Linked DNA regions of Homo sapiens: region 2 is linked to region 1. The links come from fine-mapping of genetic effects on gene expression. Tissue or cell type: whole blood. Region 1 holds a variant in brackets; the other region holds the start of a gene. All regions are shown on one strand. Distances are between the middles of the regions.

Evidence for each region. PIP is the estimated chance that this variant, and not a neighbour inherited with it, causes the effect.
Region 2: NIPSNAP3A starts here. The variant in region 1 is fine-mapped to the expression of NIPSNAP3A in whole blood (INTERVAL, PIP 0.91).

The regions. Positions count from the first base shown.
Region 1 is chr9:104,713,108-104,721,218 of GRCh38, forward strand. All of the region lies in intron 1 of LOC107987105 (a long non-coding RNA gene), which reads right to left. Among named protein-coding and RNA genes, the nearest start is that of OR13D1, 23 kb to the left of the region's middle. The variant C/G (reference allele first, on the strand shown) is at 3,822.
Region 2 is chr9:104,744,042-104,752,152 of GRCh38, forward strand. NIPSNAP3A (nipsnap homolog 3A) reads left to right here and starts at 3,642. Exons shown (of 6, transcript NM_015469.3): 1 at 3,642-3,811; 2 at 6,915-7,125. The coding sequence starts at 3,752. It overlaps LOC107987105 (a long non-coding RNA gene), which reads right to left and starts at 3,598. Exons shown (of 5, transcript XR_007061705.1): 1 at 3,408-3,598. RefSeq lists a silencer at 3,536-3,625 and an enhancer at 4,046-4,205.

The DNA.
Region 1 (8,111 bases):
ACTGAAATTCTACATTTTTATAACAAAGAAAAAAGCAGAGGTAACAGAAGCCCCTGATGTTTCCCTAGGCTCCCTCCCACCCACCAGGCATCGCCTCTATCTTTTTTTTTTCTTGTGTGATACTGCCGGATGCTCTACAGTGCTTCCTATCAGCACTGCTAAGCTTGATCACATTCTAAATGGTGGGTTCTAGAATCTTTTTGCAATAACTGAGGCTGTATCAGTATGTCTGATGATGGTGGATATAAGTGTTAGATCGATTGGTGGACATAAGAACACTAAATGGCATTGAATTAATCTATGTAATATGATAGAACATAAAGCCCCACTCCAATTTCCTGTCCATTGTCTGTTTTATTCCCTACTTGGTTTTTAGAGAAAACTGTCCATTCTACACATTCTTGCCACAATTATCTTCCAAGAAAAATGTGAAAATACTATTTCTGATACATATAGTAATAAAATATAGGTTAATTTAAAATTGTTCGGAAAATATGGAGAAGATAAATTATTAGTGCCCTAAGTCTCACATTCCAGAGAAAACCACAGTTAACATTTTGGTGTCATTTCTTCAGACACATAAGTACAAAATTGCAATCATTTATATTATTAGAAACTTCTTTTTTGTAATATTATATATGTGCATTGTCCCTTTTCCTTATTCTTCTCCAAGGCTACAATTTGCAATGGTGGTAGTCTCTGACAGATTAAATAGTCTCACATGTATACCATGCCCATCACACGCCAGAAAGTCAGCATTCTAGAAGAAAAACTTATAGCTGTTAAAGCATGATTGAACGTGAAATATGATAGTACATGCAATGATATTTTTTCTATTGTTGGATCATTCAGGGGAAGATGTTATATAATAATGCATTTTTGAATGACTTTTAGGAAAATGCCTCCAGTTTCTCACCATTTGTAATTATACTGACCAACTGTTAAAGAGAAATAATCTTCATTATCTTAATGAATTATCCTCCTAAGCTTAGATTACTGAGACATTTTACTAAGAGTGAATGTTGTATTCTATCAAATGCTTTTTGGCATCTAGTTAGGTAACAATGCATTTTACTTTTGTTACCTATTTGCTTCATATATTGATAGATTTCTAACTTGGAATTCCTTGTATTAATAAAAACAAATGACATTATTTTACTATACAGTTTGGATGTACTCTGTATTTCTGTACATGTATTTCATAAGTTGGATTGATCGTAGTTTTATTGAGAGTTTTCAGTAAAAGGCTATCTTAGGTTGATAAAATAATTTGCAAACTGTACTATTAACTTTTTTTACATGAGAATAAGTTACATAGCACATAAATTATTTGTTTCTTATAAGTATAAAATAATTATCAAAACCATTCTTTACCCAGTGTCCATTTTGGGAGTGTAGTACTCACAGTGGGATCCCTATCAGGTATCACACAGTATATATGGCATAGTATGTGTTCAATAAACGAGTAAGTGGAGGTTGCTGTGGGGGCTAAAAGCACATCGTAGGGGCATCCTACTCAAAGAGGTGAAAAAGTTTTCCTAGAAAATATCTAAATTGAGAGAAGTCCTTCCAGCTTAAGAAAACAGCATGTACAAATGAATGGAGAAAAAAGGCACTATTTGGGGGAGGGAAAAAGAAACTCAGCATGCTCATTGCAGAGCATCGGGGGTGTCAGTAGGAACTTTGGAATTTCTACATTAGAGGGGCCTAGGGATGACAGTGTGGTCGGATGATGGGCTAGAGGGCTTTTCTTGAAGTTGTGTTGCATAGCAGACATACTGTTTTTCCTAAGACTGTATTTCTCTGCTTATGTGTCTTTTGTGGGGAAGCTGGTGAATATTATTGAGAAGCAAACCCACTCAATAACGCCTTCCTTGACATTATCATGGGAGAAGAAATGGCTGAAGTGGGGAAAAAAAAAGGGAACTGAGGGAGTTGAGACAGGTTTTTGTGATAGGTTAATGGTTTTTTTGTGAAGTTATTCTTTGTCTTCTCTTATTCACCCTTAATTCTGGAAAAATATGCTCCCTTACCTGGGACCCTTTTTGAACAGAGAAAATGACAGTCATTTCTTCTTCACCCCTTTCTCCTCAACAATCTCACTCTAGGATAGAAGTATTAAGTTTAGCACACTTTCTTTAACAGTAAAAATGACCCCTTTTCCTTCTCCTTCTTCTTTTCTCCTTCTCTCCCTTCATAACAACTATCTTCCAACAAATTGAAACTTCTGCCTTAACTGATTTCTTTGTGGAAATAAGTCCATGTGCCAATGTGACTAGAAACAGGAAAGGATGTGTGGAAGAAGGAAATATTTTCTAATATACTAAGATAGTGGTACCAACATCTTTTTTCACTCTATTTTCTAATATACTAAGATAGTGGTACCAACATCTTTTTTCAACTTTACTAAAATCATTGTTCAGATGATATTCTCTAAGAGGAAGAGAAATGATATGGAAAAGGAATGAAAAGGAAATAATTTTCCTGTATTTTCCCTTATAGGAAGATAGGAACGCTGCTGTCTATTTTCAGACAAGAAATAAGCCCCTCATCCATGTCTTCAAGCTCTTTGGATACAGAAAGGCCAGAGAAAATGCGTGGTTTGGGGCAAGGATATGATCAGCAAGAAACATTTTCATTTACCACCAACGCCCAGGGAACTCTAGCTATGACAGAGATAGTCTAACAAAGTTACACACATACTATATAAAGTATCCTTTATATAAGTAAGTCAATACTTTTCTTGGGCACCTAACAGAATAAATATGAAACAACTACAGGATGGCTGAGTTTTTAATGACATGGGGCTAAAGTTGTAAGTAGGCAGAACTAGCAAAACATGAGTTGGGATGAAAAAGGTAGAAAAAGCACATATTAGGACAATTAAAGATCCTGAAATGCATATTGATTTGCAGAGTAAAAACAAAGGCTAGAGGATTCCAGGTGTGTGGCTGGTAGAAGCAAATGTGATAGTAAGAAGACAGACTGGCAAAATGGATAAAGAGTCAAGACCCATCAGTGTGCTGTATTCAGGAAACCCATCTCAGGTGCAGAGACACACATAGGCTCAAAATAAAGGGATGGAGGAAGATCTAGCAAGCAAATGGAAAACAAAAAAAGGCAGGGGTTGCAATCCTAGTCTCTGATAAAACAGACTTTAAACCAACAAAGATCAAAAGACACAAAGAAGGCCATTACATAATGGTAAAGGGATCAATTCAACAAGAAGAGCTAACTATTCTAAATATATATGCACCCAATACAGGAGCACCCAGATTCATAAAGCAAGTCCTTAGAGACCTACAAAGAGACTTAGATTCCCACACAATAATAATGGGAGACTTTAACACCCCACTGTCAACATTAGACAGATCAACGAGACAGAAAGTTAACAAGGATATCCAGGAATTGAACTCAGCTCTGCACCAAGCGGACCTAATAGACATCTACAGAACTCTCCACCCCAAATCAACAGAATATACGTTCTTTTCAGCACCACATCACACCTATTCCAAAATTGACCACATAATTGGAAGTAAAGCACTCCTCAGCAAATGTAAAAGAACAGAAATTATAACAAACGGTCTCTCAGACCACAGTGCAATCAACCTGGAACTCAGGATTAAGAAACTCACTCAAAACCGCTCAACTACATGGAAACTGAACAACCTGCTCCTGAATGACTACTGGGTAAATAACCAAATGAAGGCAGAAATAAAGATGTGCTTTGAAACCAATGAGAACAAAGACACAACATACCAGAATCTCTGGGACACATTCAAAGCACTGTGTAGAGGGAAATTTATAGCACTAAATGCCCA[C/G]AAGAGAAAGCAAGAAAGATAGAAAATTAACACCCTAACATCACAATTAAAAGAACTAGAGAAGCAAAAGCAAACACATTCAAAAGCTAGCAGAAGACAAGAAATAACTAGGATCAGAGTAGAACTGAAGGAGATAGAGACACAAAAAACCCTTCAAAAAATCAATGAATTCAGGAGCTGGTTTTTTGAAAAGATCAACAAAATTGATAGACGGCTAGCAAGACTAATAAAGAAGAAAAGAGATAAGAATCAAATAGACGCAATAAAAAATGATAAAGGGGATATCACCACCAATCCCACAGAAATACAAACTACCGTCAGAGAATACTATAAACACCTCTATGCAAATAAACCAGAAAATCTAAAAGAAATGGATAAATTCCTTGACACATACACCCTCCCAAGACTAAACCAGGAAGAAGTTGAATCCCTGAATAGACCAATAACAGGCTCTGAAATTGAGGCAATAATTAATAGCTTATCAACCAAAAAAAGTCCAGGACCAGAGGGATTCACAGCTGAATTCTACCAGAGGTACAAGGAGGAGCTAATACCATTCCTTCTGAAACTATTCCAATCAATAGAAAAAGAGTGAATCCTCCCTAACTCATTTTATGAGGCCAGCATCATCCTGATACCAAAGCCTCACAGAGACACAACCAAAAAAGAGAATTTTAGATCAATATCCCTGATGAACATCGATGCAAAAATCCTCAATAAAATACTGGCAAACCGAATCCAGCAGCACATCAAAAAGCTTATCCACCATGATCAAGTGGGCTTCATCCCTGGGATGCAAGGCTGGTTGAACATATGCAAATCAATAAATGTAATCCAGCATATAAACAGAACCAAAGACAAAAACCACATGATTATCTCAATAGATGCAGAAAAGGCCTTTGACAAAATTCAACAGCCCTTCATGCTAAAAACTCTCAATAAATTAGGTATTGATGGGACATATCTCAAAATAATAAGAGCTATTTATGACAAACACACAGCCAATATCATACTGAATGGGCAAAAACTGGAAGCATTCCCTTTGAAAACTGGCACAAGACAGGGATGCCCGCTCTCACCACTCCTATTCAACATAGTGTTGGAAGTTCTGGCCAGGGCAATTAGGCAGGAGAAAGAAATAAAGGGTATTCAATTAGGAAAAGAGGAAGTCAAGTTGTCCCTGTTTGCAGATGACATGATTGTATATCTAGAAAACCCCATTGTCTCAGCCCAAAATCTCCTTAAGCTGATAAGCAACTTCAGCAAAGTCTCAGGATACAAAATCAACGTGCAAAAATCACAAGCATTCTTATACACCAATAACAGACAAACAGAGAGCCAAATCATGAGTGAACTCCCATTCACAATTGCTTCAAAGACAATAAAATACCTAGGAATCCAACTTACAAGGGATGTGAAGGACCTCTTCAAGGAGAACTACAGACCACTGCTCAATGAAATAAAAGAGGATACAAAGAAATGGAAGAATATTCCATGCTCATGGGTAGGAAGAATCAATATCGTGAAAATGGCCATACTGCCCAAGGTAATTTATAGATTCAATGGCATCCCCATCAAGCTACAAATGGCTTTCTTCATAGAATTGGAAAAAACTACTTTAAAGTTCATATGGAACCAAAAAAGAGCCCGCATCGCCAAGTCAATCCTAAGCCAAAAGAACAAAGCTGGAGGCATCACGCTACCTGACTTCAAACTATACTACAAGGCTACAGTAACCAAAACAGCATGGTACTGGTACCAAACAGAGATATAGACCAATGGAACAGAACAGAGCCCTCAGAAATAATGCCACATACCTACAACTATCTGATCTTTGACAAACCTGAGAAAAACAAGCAATGGGGAAAGGATTCCCTATTTAATAAATGGTGCTGGGAAAACTGGCTAGCCATATGTAGAAAGCTGAAACTGGATCCCTTCCTTACGCCTTATACAAAAACTAATTCAGGATGGATTAAAGACTTAAATGTTAGACCTAAAACCATAAAAACCATAGAAGAAAACCTAGGCTTTACCATTCAGGACACAGGCACGGGCAAGGACTTCATGTCTAAAACACCAAAAGCAATGGCAACAAAAGCCAAAATTGACAAATGGGATCTACTAAAACTAAAGAGCTTCTGCACAGCAAAAGAAACTACCATCACAGTGAACAGGCAACCTATAGAATGGGAGAAAATTTTTGCAACCTACTCATCTGACAAAGGGCTAATATCCAGAATCTACAAAGAACTCAAACAAATTTACAAGAAAAAAAAAAAAAAAAACCCATCAAAAAGTGGGCAAAGGATATGAACAGACACTTTTCAAAAGAAGACATTTATGCAGCCAAAAGACACATGAAAAAAATGCTCATCATCACTGGCCATCAGAGAAATGCAAATCAAAACCACAATGAGATACCATCTCACACCAGTTAGAATGGCAATCATTAAAAAGTCAGGAAACAACAGGTGCTGGAGAAGATGTGGAGAAATAGGAACACTTTTACACTGTTGGTGGGACTGTAAACTAGTTCAACCATTGTGGAAGTCAGTGTGGCGATTCCTCAGGGAACTAGAACTAGAAATATCATTTGACCCAGCAATCCCATTACTGGGTATATACCCAAAGGATTATAAATCATGCTGCTATAAAGACACATGTACACATATTTATTGCAGCACTATTCACAATAGCAAAGACTTGGAACCAACCCAAATGTCCAACAATGATAGACTTGATTAAGAAAATGTGGCACATATACACCATGGAATACTATGCAGCCATAAAAAATGATGCGTTCATGTCCTTTGTAGGGACATGGATGAAGCTGGAAACCATCATTCTCAGCAAACTATCACAAGGACAAAAAACCAAACACCGCATATTCTCACTCATAGGTGGGAACTGAACAATCAGAACACATGGTCACAGGAAGGGGAACATCACACACCGGGGCCTGTTGTGGGGTGGGGGAAGGGGAAGGGATAGCATTAGGAGATATACCTAATGTTAAATGACGAGTTAATGGGTGCAGTACACCAACACAGCACATGTATACATATGTAACAGACCTGCACATTGTGCACATGTACCCTAAAACTTAACGTATAATTTTAAAAAAAAAGAATTCTCACGTCATTGTTCTTGATTATGCTAATTCTCATAATTGTGAAATTGCCTGCTACATGTAGACAACCGAAAAGACCACATTCCAGCCGGGCGTGGTGGCTCATGCCTGTAATCCCAGCACTTTGGGAGGCCGAGGTGGGCGGATCACGAGGTCAGGAGATCGAGACCATCCTGGCTAACATGGTGAAACCTCGTCTCTACCCAAAATACAAAAAAATTTAGCTGGGCATGATGGCGGGCACCTGTAATCCCAGCTACTTGGGAGGCTGAGGCAAGACAATGGCGTGAACCCGGGAGGCGGAGCTTGCAGTGAGCCGAGATCACGCCACTGCACTCCAGCCTGGATGACAGAGCGAGACTCCGTCTCAAAAACACACACACACACACACACACACACACACACACACACATTCCAAAGGCTACAAGAAATAAAAGGCTGTGATCCAGCTTTCAGAGTTTACTAGTATATCATGTGTAATCAGAAATAAAACAAGCAAGTGATGCTTGCTATGTAAGTTTAACACAGCAAGAAATATTTCTGTAATTGTCTCTTGCTTAGAATCAGTGTAGGAATCTCTGAGAAGCACTGTGGTCTAATGGGTAAAAGGGTTGACTCTGGAGCCAGGCAACTGAATATTGGAATTTGGCTTTGGGATATATTATCTCTGTGACCTTGTAAAAGTTACTTAAACTTTTCTTTGTCTCTGTTTCGTCTCCGTAAAATGGGAGTTAAATATGGTATCTATGTCAGTGAGTTGCACTGAAGACTGATTAATACATTCAATGAGCTTACAGCACTGAAATGTGCTTACAAAAAAAGTGCTCAATAAAAATTAGCCATTGTCAATTCTGTCACACATGGAAGCTTCCTGGCCAAAATTTAAAACAGTATGGAAGATTTGGAGATGGGTCCAAAGCATTAAATACAAAAATCGAAAGAAAAGTATATATTAATAAGTACTCGTAAATGATATAAACTTGCCTGCAAAAGCATAAAATATGCATCTAAAAGGTAGAGAAAAAGGAATAGAGAATTTAGACCAATTGGAAAATTACAAAAGTTAAGAAGAAAGGTAATACTTGGTGACTAATATTAAAGGGTGAATTCCAGGCCCTAAAGAAAGCTGTACATAATAGCAGTCCAAGATCCTTAGT
Region 2 (8,111 bases), 31 kb after region 1:
ATTTCCAGTACACAGATCCTGAGTGAATCTATAGATAGAATTCAGAGGGTCTGATAAGTTGGATGAATAACAATTCCATCTTTATTGGCAACAACTTCTAACTAAAATTAACCATTTCCTTTATGAAGGTAGGCAACAAACCACAATATTAGCAGGACCTGTGACTTTGTAACCAATAAATATTATAGACAATGTCAAATTCCATTTATAGTTGTTGTAAATACATAAAAATTTCTTCCACACTTATCACTACTTCAAAATTACATCTTTTACACCCACTATTAGATATTGTTTTTTAGTGCCCTAATAAAGAAGCATCTCTATTTCTTTTTAAAAAGTTTTTTATATTTCATTATTCTAGTTCATTTTTTTCATATTTGATTTTGTATTTTGATTATTCTAGTTCACTTTTTTCACTGTATTTGTTTTCTTTGCAACCCTATGTATTTGTTATACATTTAAAAACATTTGGGATCCACAGGCTCACAAGATTTTGAAAGGATTTTAAGACACAAAAAAAGGTTAGTAATACCTGCCCTAGAGAAATTCTTCTGGCGGAACCAGGAGACATCTACAAATAAATTCAAACAGCTTTGTTTATAATAGTCAGATGGACAAAAAAACAAGGTATTTTCATGTAATAGAATAGCATACTAAAGGGATGTGAATTAATTATTACAACTGCATTAATGTGGTTGATTTGCAAAAGCCTAAAGTTATAGCTAACAGTTATGTAACAAAATAATAAAATTAGTTAATAAACAATCTAAAACAGGCAAACCAAAGCAATATACTCTTTAGAGTTATATACAAATGTAGTTGAATTATTTCAGAAAAATCAATGTAATAACACAAAATTTGGGATCATGGTTACTTGAGGGAATTGGAGGAGAGGGTTGTAAGAAGAATGTGACCAGGAATGAACATGTATTGAGCTTCTGAGTTGCTGGCAATACCCTTTTGCTTAAGCCTTGTGGCAAGAGCACAGACATTCACTTTATTATTCTTCTTTAAAGTGTACAGATATCTCATATACACTTTCATACCTATAATAAATGTTTGATATTACCTTCTTAGATAGGTCATCTCTGTCTATCCAATCCAAAATAACTACCCAGTTACTCTATATCATACGAGCCTATTTTAATAATCTAGTTTTTTGATAGGATTTTTCTAGCTTTGAACTGTCTATCCTTTGGACTATTTGTCAGAATTTCAGGATATGCAACAATAATTTTCAAAATATTTATCCTATACATTTTCCAGGCAGTTTAGGGATATGCTTTTTAAAATAGCCACAGAACAATATTACATTTTAAATTCTGTCTAAAAGCTACTTTCCACTGCAAATCTAAAATTACCTTAATAATCACATATCTTTTAAAAATAAATGGTAAACTGAACTGGTTTTACAATTGGGCTTCAAAGTCTGTGCCACTTCGTAGCAATGAAACTGAGAAAATTCTCTTTTCAGACTTCACCTTTCTCACTTAAAAAACGGAGATAAAGCTTAACTCACAGTATTTGAGGATATTTAAAACCTGTGAGAAAGAGAATAGGAGAATATTTTAGCTACTTAGAAGCACTTAACAATGTTTAGCCATCTCTCAATTGTAGCCATGAATTTTGCCCCTATCTGTATTTTCCTCTTGGAAATTCCTCTTGGAAGTTCCCTGTATCTTTCTGCTGGATGGATGCAGTTAATGATGAGACTAGGGAATGGCAAAGCCACCGGGTAGAAGCCTGGCTCCCTAATTCACTAAGTATAGAAGAGCTACCTGCCAACTAGAAAAACCCACTTTGTATTCTTATAAAAAATAAACTCCTATAGTGTTTGAGTAATAATACACTTTTTTGAGTGTTGATTTACAAGAGCTATTTAATCTACCCTAATTAATATATTATTGAAAGATACTACCAAATGCTGAGTGTTCTGGCCTTCTTCCCTCCTCAGCCTCAGGAAACTGGCAGCAAGGCTTTTCTCACACAGATAAGATACTGGAAGTTTCCCTTCCCTAACACTGACTACACAGATAAATAACTTGCAGATAACAGTTTGGGGGGAGGGGATACAGCCTTCAGTGAAATACCCAGGTCAGATCACCTCACAGTGAAGCCCACTATTTGAAGAGATTCACCTGTGCTTACAGTGCTTTTAACATGTTTTTCTCACTCCAAAATATATTTTTAATGTAAACATCAATAAACGCAGGAAGGAAAGTGTATTTTGAGGGAGTGGTATGAAGAAACCTAAATCCTAAATATCCAAGTCAATAGCTAGAATCCTGACCACTTTTAGAATTCCACTAGCACCTTTATTCGTATCTTACTTTATTTTTCTTTATATTATTTGACAATCCCTGATATATTTACTCTTCCTTTTTTTATCTGTTTCCTCCATCCTGGATGTTCCAAGAGGACGGGACTTTGAATTTTGCTCAATTCTGTACCCCAGTTTCTGGAAAAGTGCCTGGAACATGGAAGGAATTTAGTAAATATCTGTTGAATAAGTAAATGGATTGGCAATTACAGGGTTTAAAAAAAAAGGTCTAAGAAAATAATTTACTCATATAGATCCAGTCCTGATACAAATGATTTTTTTAGTCTTGCATGGTTACAAATAGATGTCTCTCTTCTAGAAAAACTGAGGCAACCCTTCCGAAATAACTAATTTTAAAAAGTCTCCCTTCCTTTGAACAGACAATTCCAAAGCTCTTCCACAAGGCACAACCAATACAACCCAGGTCATGGCCCTGCAATCCCTCCCTAGTCCTCATGATGTAAGCAATATTACATTAATGTTTACAATAATGTAATTATTAGCAAGAATAATGTAAACATTAATATAGATTACTGTAAATTAATAGTGTAATTAATTACTGTAAATTAACATAAGCATTATTAGATGCAGGAAGACAAGTGAATTTGGGGGCAGTGGCATCTATGAGACATAAATCCTCATCTGCCACAGAAGGAAGTCAACACATACTATCCATAACTGAAAATGCAATAAACAGCAGAAAACACTACTTACTTAAAAATACAGAAACAAGCATTAAATGAAACAGCTTGAAATGTTGAAGGTGGTTACTCTGGGAACCAACACTCCCGGACTGGGAGGACTAGACCAGGGTATGTTTAACTTTGACTTTTTCATTTCAGGCTCGATGCTGCCATTTCTCTGAGCTCGTGGAAAATTTAATCTAAATCTTAATTAGGAGCCTTCTAAGATGGAGAACACATTCATTGCAGAGAGGTCAGGCTCAAATACACGTCTATCACAACATCTAAAACTTAACTCGGAAAAAACCTCCACGATTTTAAATACAAAGCACTGCACATGCACGCACTCAACACCTCTCCTTCTTTCCCCATGGTCAACACACCCACAACCCCTGCACATTTACCAATCTACACAACTGAGCACTGGAGCGAATGAGGTGAGTGAGGGCCCAGAAAGTTGAAGCAGGAACGATCCGAGCCTTCAGTTAATCCTAACGTCACCTCTAACGTTTGGGGTAAGAACGTTTCAGGAAACCAAGGGGGAACCAACGCTCAGCACAGCAGAGAAAGACACCAAGCTACGGGACCCGCCGCGCCTCCCGCGCCGGGGTGGAGCTGACCCCGCCGAGCCCCGCCCCAGCCTGCGTCTGCCAATGATCCAGGAGCCGCTCCTTTCCACTCGGGAAACCTTCAGAGGAGTCTCAGAAAGGACACGGCTGGCTGCTTTTCTCAGCGCCGAAGCCGCGCCATGCTCGTCCTCAGAAGCGCCCTGACTCGGGCGCTGGCCTCACGGACGCTGGCGCCTCAGGTACCGGCCACGGGGGTACCCAAGCCTTCACCCGACGGGAGGGGAGGGGCGGGGCGGGGAGTGTTCCGGGTACGTGCGAGCAATGCGCATGCGCTCTCCGCCACGCGCGCCCAGACCTGGGGCCCCGGTGAGGTTCTAGCGTGAGCCCCGGAACCCCAAGACAGGGGTACCCGGAACGCGCGTGAGGAGGAGGCCGCTGCTAGGGGAATACCCCCAGCCGGGGTCGTCTCGCGGGCAGTGGTGGTCAGAAGGCTTTTCTAGCCTGGATGCCACACCCACCGGGACACTCCCATGGCGCCGGCTGTTTCGTTTTTGCTGCCCAGCTATGTCGCGGCTGCGGCCCAGCGAGCGCTCCCATGTTGTCACCTGGCGCTGTGGAGCCGCGGGTGGAGTCGTAGCTTTCCAAGCCACCGCCCTCTCTAGACATCAGGTTGAAGGAGGGAATTGTCAACCAGCCGCTTGCCACGGAACCGGCCTCCCCCTTTTAAATGAAGCACACAACTTCCGAGCATTTCGCGGAGACCCTTGAAGAGGAGGCCCAGGGTCCCGGTGGGGCTGGACCCTGCCCGCCACCCGCGCTTCGTGTGGTCGCTCCCCCAACCAGGCGGGACCGGAGCCTCCTATCAAACCGGACGATGACAGACAGACTCTTTTAACCTTAGATGAGAAATGGACAAAATGGAGCTTGTGATTCTGCCCTAACTTTCGGGAGTGGCCTATTCTGTGGCTTCAACCTAGAAATTTCTTTTCCTTTTGATGTTTAGGACTTTACTCCTTTCTGAAGGGGCAGGATGGGAAGGGGATTAACCTGTCCTAGAGACAGACTGAGGAGCACTAAAGAAGAGCAGCTCATGTCCATTCACCCCGGGTTAACAATGCAGTTTTTACCCTAATGATTCTCCAGTGGGGCAGGGCCAGGAATGACGTCCTTATGGCATGATTCCAAACTTTAAGTTTTTAGAAATGTCCATCAGTTGTTCTCTTTTAAGTGAAGTGGAGGTCGTTGCTGGTGGGAATGATCCCTAACTTGGAGATAAGGGAGGATGGACGACTCATGATTTCTGCCCTAGCAGCTAAAAGTCATCCCTGCAACAAAATTCTTAACTCCCATCCGGCTCCCCCACCATACCCGGCTCCCCTGCAGTCTTCCTTCTCTGGCACCACCTGTCCACATCTCTCTCCCTCTCTCACTGTAGGTTCCCTACTGTATATTAATACTGCCCAAAATTGTAAAAATGTGTACCTTTGATCAACTATTTTATCCTCCAAATACAAATTCCTCGAATCAACCTGAAATCCATTTGTCACAAATGCCCCATTGGCCTATCTCCTGATATATTTTATTATAATAATTTTGAAATTATGGATACTAGGCACTTGCTTCTTGACCAACATTGTTACTAGAGTTTGGTTTAAAAGCACAAAAAGAGTGTCCACAAAAGGCAGGGGCAGCTGCAGCTGTTTTTGTTGGTAGGCTTAGTCATTTGAGCAATAAGAATATAAGTCACACACGAATAGAATTAACTCTAGATAATTATCATTAAGCCTTATCATACACAGTTACATAATTTTGTATTTTGTAAACAAAAATATGTCGGAGCAAAAGCCTACTGCTTTCAGACAGACATACTGGCTAGTCAGTATAAGCCCTAATTTGTCCATAGCTTTGTAGGTATCAAAACTGTCTTCACAGATTATTCTGGTGTAATCAACTTAAGGAAATGGCACATGCTATTCAAACTTAAGTAAGATGGATTTATAAGAATATCACGAATGCCTGTGTGTATACCATGAGTGCATATATATATGTGTGTGTGCGTATGTGTGTGTGTATGTGTATACATATATACACATAGATACCTACATAGAGGATAATCTTAGGCGAGGTATTTCTTACAGAAAGTTCAACCAGAACACAAATTAGAAATTTACAGTGCGTGTATGACTATTACAAAAGGAATTAATGGTTCTTAAGTGATATTTTCATCAATGTGGTATAAGTGGATTCATTAAATGTTGTTCACATTGCATCTGTAATTAGAAACTAATAAGAAAATTTTGACTCTGAATTTTCTTTTCTCAGCATTCATGTTCTACCATTATATTACAATGCAATTGGATAGGTCAGAGCTTTTTATTGCATTAGTTACATTCCAGTCCTAATTTTGGTCAGTGGTTTACTTCATTGAATTAGGAAATACTTTGACCTGAACTGTAATTTCCATTTTTTTCAAGAACCTAAAAGAGTTTTCTTCTAGTAAACATTTTTTTCATTATGCCTGCCAAAAGTTACGTGCGTAGTTAATAAAGTTCTTTGATGTGCATAACTGTAACACGTATGCTCTTGACTAAAGATGCAATATTGGCTAATAGGAAAACTTTTGTAAATTTGTTAGAATCCTAATTGTAGTTCTTGGATAAAGAAGTATCATTAAGATCTCAGCGCCTTCTTATGAGCAATTTCTGAAAAAGTGGCTAAAGGTGACAGTGAACCCCCACTAGGAAACAGTAACTACACACTCAGCATATTTAAGAGTAGTTGTCTTTATTGACACCTCTATGTAAACAAATGTATATGTGAAGCAGGAGAATAGGGTCTTGAGGCAGGGAACCTAAGGACTTCCTAGAACTAAATCAAACCCTTCAGCTATGACAAGAAATACCCTCTTCATTTACATAGGGTGTACACAGAGTAAATGACTTTGCAACTTTACTTCATCCTCTTCATTTATATACGGCTTACACCACATAGCCAATGGGACACCTCTAGAGGGTACTGAAACCCTAGAAAATTCTGTAACCAGGGCCCTTGAGCCACTTGCTCAGGCCCACTCCTACCCTGTGGAGTGTGCTTTCATTTTCAATAGATCTCTGCTTTTGTTACTTCATTCTTTCCTTGCTTTGTGCATTTTGTCCAGTTCTTTGTTCAAACACCAAGAACCTGGACACCCTCCATCAGTAACATATTGAGAATTGACAACAGAAGTACAAACATGAGTAATGAGTCTATGAGTGTCCCTTGTACCAGATTCAGATTAGGTTTTAACACAATATAATGAATCCTGTCTTCTCAAGATATTTACATTTGTCTTATCTTCTTCAGATGTGCTCATCTTTTGCTACGGGACCCAGACAATACGATGGAATATTCTATGAATTTCGTTCTTATTACCTTAAGCCCTCAAAGATGAATGAGTTCCTGGAAAATTTTGAGAAAAACGCTCATCTTCGGACAGCTCACTCTGAATTGGTTGGATACTGGAGTGTAGAATTTGGAGGCAGAATGAATACAGTGTTTCATATTTGGAAGTATGGTAAAGAGTCATCCAATTTTGGCTTTCAGTATAGATTTTCATTTTTCAGTATAGATTTTCATTCTGTTAAATGTAACATAAAACTTAGTTCTTGGATGTATATTATTTTAGATACATACAGGTTAACTAAGACTTTTGAAAAGCAATACCAAAAAAATAAATTCAGTTCTTATTCTTCCCAGTGGTACACCTCTAACCCCTTGCTTAAACATTACATTATATTACATTATAAATTGGAAGACATGGCATCTCATATATCAAGCGATAAAATTGTGAACTAGACTTTAAACCTCAGAAAAATATTAAAATGGTTTGCTGTAAAGATAGTTCATGAAAAATTTAAAGCAGCAATTGTAAAAGTCCAAGTGGATTAAGATCACAAAAGGAAAGGAGAAGTATCTTTTCTCTTTTTGAAGCTAGGGGGCTGGATATCAGTATTTTAGCAGAAATAATTCAACCATTTAAGGGACTTCACAATATGGAGGTTTATAGGGGATGATGGTTAACTTTCAATCCTCACTGAACTCTGAGATTTAATAATTCTGTTATGTTTAGAGACCACATTTGTTTCATATCTGTACCCCCAGAGTTTTGAGGAATTCACTGTCATACTACTCTAGGGAGGTAAAAGAAAAGGAATGAAAGAGAGTTCTTCCCGTGTTGAAACTAACCTACGCCTGGTTTAGTAGAGGAAGGAGAATAAGTTACAAGAATGCCCAGAATGCTTGTTACTCCAGTGTCTACATCAGGACTTGATGATACCTAAAGAATTTTTAATAATTTCATTTAGTGTTTGGTTTAGGGTTTTTCCCTGTTAATAGAAAAAGCCCCATTAAAATACATTTTATGCTTTAGATGTGGTACAAGTTGTATCACAGCCCATTAAAAAAACTAAGTTCTGATATACCTCACTTAAGTTGTAAGATAGGTATTCTTCCTTATCCCAATGTAAACCATATGAACCTCTCTTGCCATTAGTCTTATGA